2 linked regions of the Homo sapiens genome follow. The protein of the gene in region 2 purifies or fractionates together with the protein of the main gene of each other region. This does not show direct contact. Each region holds a gene or a part of one and is shown on either strand. Other genes may lie near its edges.

Region 1 (3,500 bases), on a different chromosome or scaffold from region 2:
CAGAAGCTTTATCACTTAAATATCTGAGCTAGTGAGAACTCTTGGTCCACATTAGAAAATGAAATCATTTAACAGCCAGGGCTGTTTTCCCTTTCAGTGATAACACAATGAGCTGCTAATGCTATCCATTAAAGGGAAAACTGGAACAAATGGCTCACCTCGGGCAGTTTAGACCAGTTGAAGGATTTCAGGGCATTTGTGGGCTGAGGAATGCTTTTCTTCTTCAGTGCTAGGCCCATTGGAGCACCAGGAGGTGGCATGATTGCCCCTAAGGGAGGAGGCCCTGGGGGAGGAGGAGGGCCACCTGGAGGGAGGGGAGGCGGTGGAGGGGGAAGCATCCCACCTGGTAGAGGTGGGGGTGGTGGGGGAGGAAGGAGAGATCCAGGCACAGAGGAAGGAAAGGGCCCTCCTGGTGCTCCAGGCGAGGGTCCACCTGGGATTGAAGCACAGACGGCCCTCTGAAAAGATAAAAATAGGAAAAGAAAGATCAATGGAAGAAGTAAATTCATTGAATGATTTAAGAGTCTGTAACTTGGCCTAAAATGTTTATTATAGAGAAATTCACCCTTCTGAGAATGTTTAAAGGATCGGTAAAGTCGAATGGACTCTTTTGGGCCTTTATGGACTCCAGTGCATCAACCTTTTGTACCTGACACTCAAGTACTTGTCTGGGATGCATTCATATCTCTCTCACTTCTTGCACCATCACAGACAGTCTGGTTTTCATGAAGTCAGTTTTCACTTTAAGAAGCTAATGCAATTTCCTTTGCTCTTAGATTTGTACAGTATTTAAAAATGCACCCCCAAACAGCCTCTGCTGCCTACATGATAGCAGAGGGAGTGAGTCTCCTAATTGTGATGAATCATGAGCCATTTCAGATTTTATTCCCCCAGTATGAAGTTCTCTACTTAAGGGTGAGGGGCTCTAGGGTCAGTGAGGCCTTGGCAGCTGCCCGTGAGCTGAGCGGAAGACCTCACCCTGCTGAGCTCATGGAGCTGTGCTGTGAGGTCCGCCACCTGCTGCTTGACTTGCTTATGCTCAGTAGTCTCCTTTTCAAGTTTCTCTTTCATTTTATTTAAGGTCTGCATCATCTCTTCCTTCTCTTGAGTCTTAGCATCACATTCTCGTTCTTTCTTTTCCAGTTTCTGTTGTAGCTCATTGTGCTCTACACGAGAAAACAATTGGACATGAAAACAGGAGAGTCTTCAAAGCTGAAGCATTTTCTCTAAAAGAAAATTGACTGAGGATGATGGCAGAGATTATGAGGATCTTTATTAGGTAAATATTATTCCTCTTCTCCATCAAAGGGAGCAACTCAAAGGCTAAATGATGTTTGTGCTTGGAGTGGGCTTCGGATGAACAATGTTATTATTAACTACGTAAGAGACTGAAGAAGAGAGCCTACACTCACAGTTCTAAACACAGAACAAAAGTTTGAGTGACTTCTTGTGGAGGAGAATGGTAACTGTTTGGTAGTTGATTCAGAATCTTGTCATTAAAATGGTCCTTTAGCAATACAAGGAAAAAAATAAATATTCAAATGGCCTCTTTTCACAAATTAGAAGTGAGACAAAGAGTAGTTCAGCTTTTATGAATTAGGTTTGCCAGCTCACATCCAACCAGCCGAAGGGCTGGAAGGGAGGGTCTCACCTGTGAGGAAGAGCTGCTGTCAGACCCAGGGTTTGTCCCCAGATGGAATCACTTCTCCCATCTCCCCTCAGAAGGCTACTTGAAGTATTTTATGCTTTCAGTAAACAATTATTAAGGCATATGAAAGCAAATGTTATCATCTCAGTATTAAATATCTTAAGGGGAGTGGGGTCAGTAGAACGCGAAAATCATGGTAACACAGGGGAGAAAAATATTGACTCTTAGCTGTAGTTTTACTGACTTCCTCAATCCTGCTATAATAAAACAGGGCATCCAATTCAGCATAATGCATATTCACATTGCCAATGAATACAAGCTTGCTGAAAGGAGTGATGAGTTTTGGAAAAGAGAACTAACAAAGTTTAGGCTGCGGATTTTTATTTCAAATACATGTCCCCAATTCCTATTCTTTTTATATCAATAAATCCACTAGAGGTATAACCCACTGGGGCCGAGCTATACTAATAGAGCTGGTCTCTATTTCTGAATTTGCTAACACATTTAAATTCTTGTTTTCTCTGTCTCTGACCTTCTCTCTCCTGAGTTCCCCCAAATTAGAGTTTACAGAGAGGAGTTCAAGCCACTAAAATCCCTGGATTTTGTCAGCAATCCACTTCTACCACTCTGTTGTTGCCTCCCTAACTTCTCCAGAAATACATCCAAAAATGACCTCTCTATATCCCATTTTCCTTCTTTTATCTCCATTTCATTCTTCTTTCACAATTTCAGGACTAGAAACTTGCCTTCCTCTCACTGGTCATTAGCTTTTGATGAAGCTGGCTGTGTCTCAGAATTACCTGAGAACTTTCAGCATTTCAAGACTCCCCAGACACTATTCCAAGAAGTCTATTTTGTAGGTCGACTACAGGGCTTAGATGATCCTGATGTATGCCAGGTTTGGGAAGCTCCAGCCTAAATGACTCTCTCCACAAATGGTATCTATTTACCATTCAGTCACTAAGCTTTTATTGAGCACTTCCTGGGTGTGCTGCCCTAAAGAGAATTCTCCCCAAATATTCTCTACATTTTAGGTCCACAGAACTTCTGTCTCCTTATCACTTCTACCCTTGGACTATTTTAACAAAATATGCCCTCTTGAATACAATTTTGCCACCTGAAGCTTCTAGAAAAAAACTAACATTTAACTATAATCTTTCCTCTTTTAGACTCTACCCATCATTTCACTTTAAAACACTAAAACAACCTGTTCCTCCCACTGACATTGGTGATTTTCTTTTGTACCATCTCAGCCACCTAAATCCTGCAACAGTGGCTATCATTTATTGTGCAACTAGTATGTGCCAGACACTATGCTAATGATCTTATATTTGTTTTGTCATTTAATCTTCACAACCACGCTGTGAGTCAGGATTAATCCTCAGGTTGCAAAGGTCGAGACTGGGGGAGAAGAGAGGAAATCACTTAGCCCATCCACACAGTGAGAAAGGGGGAGAGCTGAGACTCAGACCCAGAGCTCAGCACAGTGCCTGACACATACAGGCATTCAACAGGTATTCACTGAATGAACGAATGAATGAATGACTCGAAAGCTTACATCCTAAGTGCTCTCCTCAACCTGCACACTTGAGTCTCCATGCTCTAGAGTGTATTCCTAAAATATCCACTCATTGACTATTTTCTCTTTGGTTTAATCTCTTTACCCTGATTTTTAGTCAATGTTTCTATCATTTTTGTAGCAGTTTCTGAAATTTATTTTTTAAAATGCATGTGCAATGTCACTTATTTGGGAGCAATCTGAATACATATGAGGAACTCGTAACATAACAGTAGTTAGTTCACAATTGGTATTTTCTGATATCAGTTATGGCCCTGCTTTTCTGCTCAGTGG
Region 2 (3,500 bases):
AGTGGGTGGCAGGGGGCACTGGGCACAGCCACGGAAAGAAGCAGAGGTGGGACCCTCACTGTGCCACCATCTGCTCCACAGTTCGGATCTCCTGCCGCCCCCACCCCGACATCCGGGGAGGAGGTAGAGCCCCTGGGGTCACACGCCCTGGACTTGAAATGGGCCCCACCCTGGCTCTGTGGTCTTGGCAAGCCACTTCCCTTCTCTGAGCCTCAATTTCCTCACCTTGAAGCCTGGGGAGGTGACGGTACCTGCTCCCTTGGGGCATTGCAAAGTGAACGAGCTCAGTGCGTGGCTCATAGCAAGGTCTGGGAGAGTGATGTCTGAGCCCCACGGCCACACTCCAGGGCAAAGCAAGATGCATCTTCCCCGGTCTTAGGTGACTCCAGGACTAAGCCTGGAGCCTCATGCAGGTCCTGCCTTCCTGCCCCAAAATCTCAGAGGAGGGGCCAAAGCCTCTCCCAGCCCACCCTGCCCCCTCCTGCCACAGCCTCACTGGAAGGTCTCTTGGAGCCACCAAGGGGGTGTCTGAGAGTCTCCCACGAAGATTCCAACGCTTGGGGTGGGCCCTGCAATATGCAGACTCTCAGGAAGAGGATGGCTCACATCTTTTTGGCTGAGTGTCCCTTCTGGGGCTACAGGGCCTGGCCTGCTCCACCACAGAGAGTGGCGGGGTCTCGGACGGCACTGCAACCCCAAGGCCCGCAGCCCATTCCCCATAATCTGGTCAGGGGGGAGGGGAGGCAGGGAGGCAGGGAGGCAGTGGGAGGTCCTGCCCCGCTCTTCCCAGCAGCAGGTCCCCACACTGGCTTCCAAGCCCCAGACAGGGCCAGCCTTGCCACCGGTCCACATCTGGGGAGGGGGTGTAGACCGGAGCCGGGACCAGGGGTCTCGCCAGAACACGTGGCCCTCGTGGCTGAGAACCCAGCTTTGGGTTTAAAGTCCTTCCTGCCCTAATGGCAGGAGCCCCAGCTCCACCCTCTGTACCATCTCCCCCTCCCCAGAGTATCATTCGGGTCCTGGAAGGTGAGGCCGGGCCCTCCACAGAGGAGGCACCCACAGCCGGTGACCCCCATCATGTGCCCATGATCAGAAGGCGCGGCCTCCGGAGGCCGACATCACAACGTTTGCAAGGGCCGGCTGGGGTCGGCACATGATTCGACCTCACGGCCGCCCTTAGGGGTGGAGGGGTCGCTACCTCAGGTTTGGGGAAGGAACACGAGGCTCTGAGGAGCGAATTTGCCCCAGGTGTCCGGGGAGGCCTGGCGCGGGGCTGCCTCGGTTCCCTCCCAGAGCCGGGGAGAGGGGATATCGCAGGATGCCGGCGCCCGAGGCGGCAGCACCAGGCCCACGGGCGCCCCAGTCTAAATATCCTCCGTGCCCCTAGAGCGGGGACCCTCGCTCCCCAGACCCGGAAGCGCCGCCTTCCCCGCCAGGGACGCCTGGGCCTCCGCAGACCCCGCCGGCCGGCGCGCCACCCGCGCCAGCACCATGGACAGCGGCCGCCCCAGCCGCGCGCTCAGGGCCAGGCCCGGGCTGGCTTCCACCGCGGACGGCTGCGGGGTCGGGGCAGCCCCGCAATCCCAAATCCCGGCAGCCCCCGCTCAGCAGGGAGGGGCCCCGGGGGCGAAGAGTGGGGGAGAAGCCGGGAAGGATCCGGAGGAGGCGGCGGGGGCGGCGCCAGGGGAGGAATAATCCCGGCGCAGTGCCGATTTAGGTTGAAAACGCTCCCAGTCATGGGCCTGCACGTGGAGCGCCGGGGCTGGGGGAGGCATTCGCGGGGCTCCTTTCCCGCCCCGCTCGGGAGCTCACGTTTGCCGGCGCCCACAGTCCCGTCCCCACCTCCAGGCCTCAGGGTCGAGATGGAGAAACCAAGCCGCACTTTGAGAGCCCACAGGAGGGAGGGGACAGGCTGAGGAGCGGCCGTCTGGGTATGGGTCCGGGGCCTGGCTTCCCTCATCCACACCCGCAGCGCTGCCAGAAGGCGCTGCTCTGCCTGTGGTCAGCCCTCGACCCGTGTGCTTGGTGGGAGCTGCATCCCCGCACAGGCAGCCCCACTGCTCCCCAATCTCGCGTCCACGTTCCTGCCGGCCCCCGCTGCTCCTCACACTCCCGGCTTGACTGACTCAGCCCGAATATCCCCCACCCCGTAGCTCAAAAATGCAAACAGCCACACACTTTGGCCCAGGCATGGGCGCTGCGGGAGAAAGCTGAGCTCAACTGGAGACTGGGGTCTCTCTGCCCGTTCAGCGAGAAGTCCCTGGGGGCTCACACAAGGGCCCCTCTGCTTGGCCCTGGGCCCGGCCCCACCCACCCAGCCAGACGGTCACCAAGGAGCCGGTTCCCATGGCTCACAGAGCCCCCTTTCCTGCTTGGCGACTGTGAGAGCCCTCGTTCCACCCAGAGGGGCTCGGACGACCTGCGTGGGCTGCTAGGGACTGCCTCTCCCTTTAGGGACAAGCAGCCCGGGTGCTAATACGGGGAAGAGACTTGTTAAAAAGGTGGCCATGCCTGCACCATCCTCAGCCTCAGCCCCTGTGGTGCTGGCTCAGCTTGAAGTGGAATCCTGTCAAGGCTCCGGGGCTCACCCCAGGGGAAAGAGAGAGAGGTGGCCCCACCTCAGCTGTCTTGTCCTCAGCAGCCTGAGCCTGGCCTGGGAGCTGCTGGGGAGAGGTGGCCGTGGCCTCTGTGTCCTCCCCAGGGGACGCAGTGTGAAGCGTGTGGCCAGAGTGAGCCTAGGGAGCACGGTGGGGCCTGGGTGCTCCTGGGGGTCCCCACATGTACATGTACAGCATCCAGGCTGACCATTCCCAGACGGCCATGTGGGGGCCCCGCAGGAGCTGCCTCTTCTGCGAATCAAGTCACTGAGCCCGGAGACCTCAGCTCCGGCCCCTTCCCAGCCCTGATGCCACAGCCCAGCCATGCCATTCCTCCTCCCCTGCTCCTCTGCCTGGGCACACGCCGTTCCCCCTGCTTGCCTGGCAGGGTTTCCCTGCCTTAGCCCTGCAAGCTCTTCTCCTCCATCCCTCAGTTCCTGGTGCGAGGTCGCCCCTGCCTCCTGCTCCGGGACCCCCAGCTCTTGAGAAAGCGTCTCCAGGGTCTTGCAATCACATGGGTTATCATCACTGTCCACCTGGTGTCTCTCCTCCTGGCCTGAGGACTCTTGAGGACAGACAGCACCAACGTGCATGGCCTCTGCATGTTCGCGGAATGAATGAATTAGGGAACGAATGAATGAATGCGGAATGTGGCTCCGCTAGCTCAGTCACGCAGAAAGGGGTGCAGCTGCCAAGGCCCCCGGAGGGCTGATGGAGGATTGGTCAAATTTAGGAAGAGGCCGGTCAGCGGGGAAGGCACAGCTCGGGAAATTAACCCGGATCGTGCCATGGCCAGTGTCCGCGGGGAGAGTGGCCTCTGGGGTTGGGACTAGGTTGGTACCTGAGTCACTGAGAGGGCTCCCAAGACCCCAGGGCTGGGGTGGGCCTTGCAATACACAGAGC

The links.
Region 1: the proteins of FBXL16 (region 2) and DAAM1 purify together in Homo sapiens (co-immunoprecipitation; 3 studies listed by BioGRID and IntAct, with this or other methods). This does not show direct contact.

Annotation. Positions count from the first base shown.
Region 1 is NC_000014.9:59,328,167-59,331,666, reverse strand, and holds part of DAAM1 (disheveled-associated activator of morphogenesis 1), read right to left. Parts: intron 1,167-3,500; coding exon 979-1,166; intron 459-978; coding exon 159-458; intron 1-158. UniProt on the Homo sapiens protein: Binds to disheveled (Dvl) and Rho, and mediates Wnt-induced Dvl-Rho complex formation. May play a role as a scaffolding protein to recruit Rho-GDP and Rho-GEF, thereby enhancing Rho-GTP formation. Can direct nucleation and elongation of new actin filaments.
Region 2 is NC_000016.10:699,302-702,801, forward strand, and holds part of FBXL16 (F-box/LRR-repeat protein 16), read right to left. Parts: intron 1-3,500. UniProt on the Homo sapiens protein: Substrate-recognition component of the SCF (SKP1-CUL1-F-box protein)-type E3 ubiquitin ligase complex.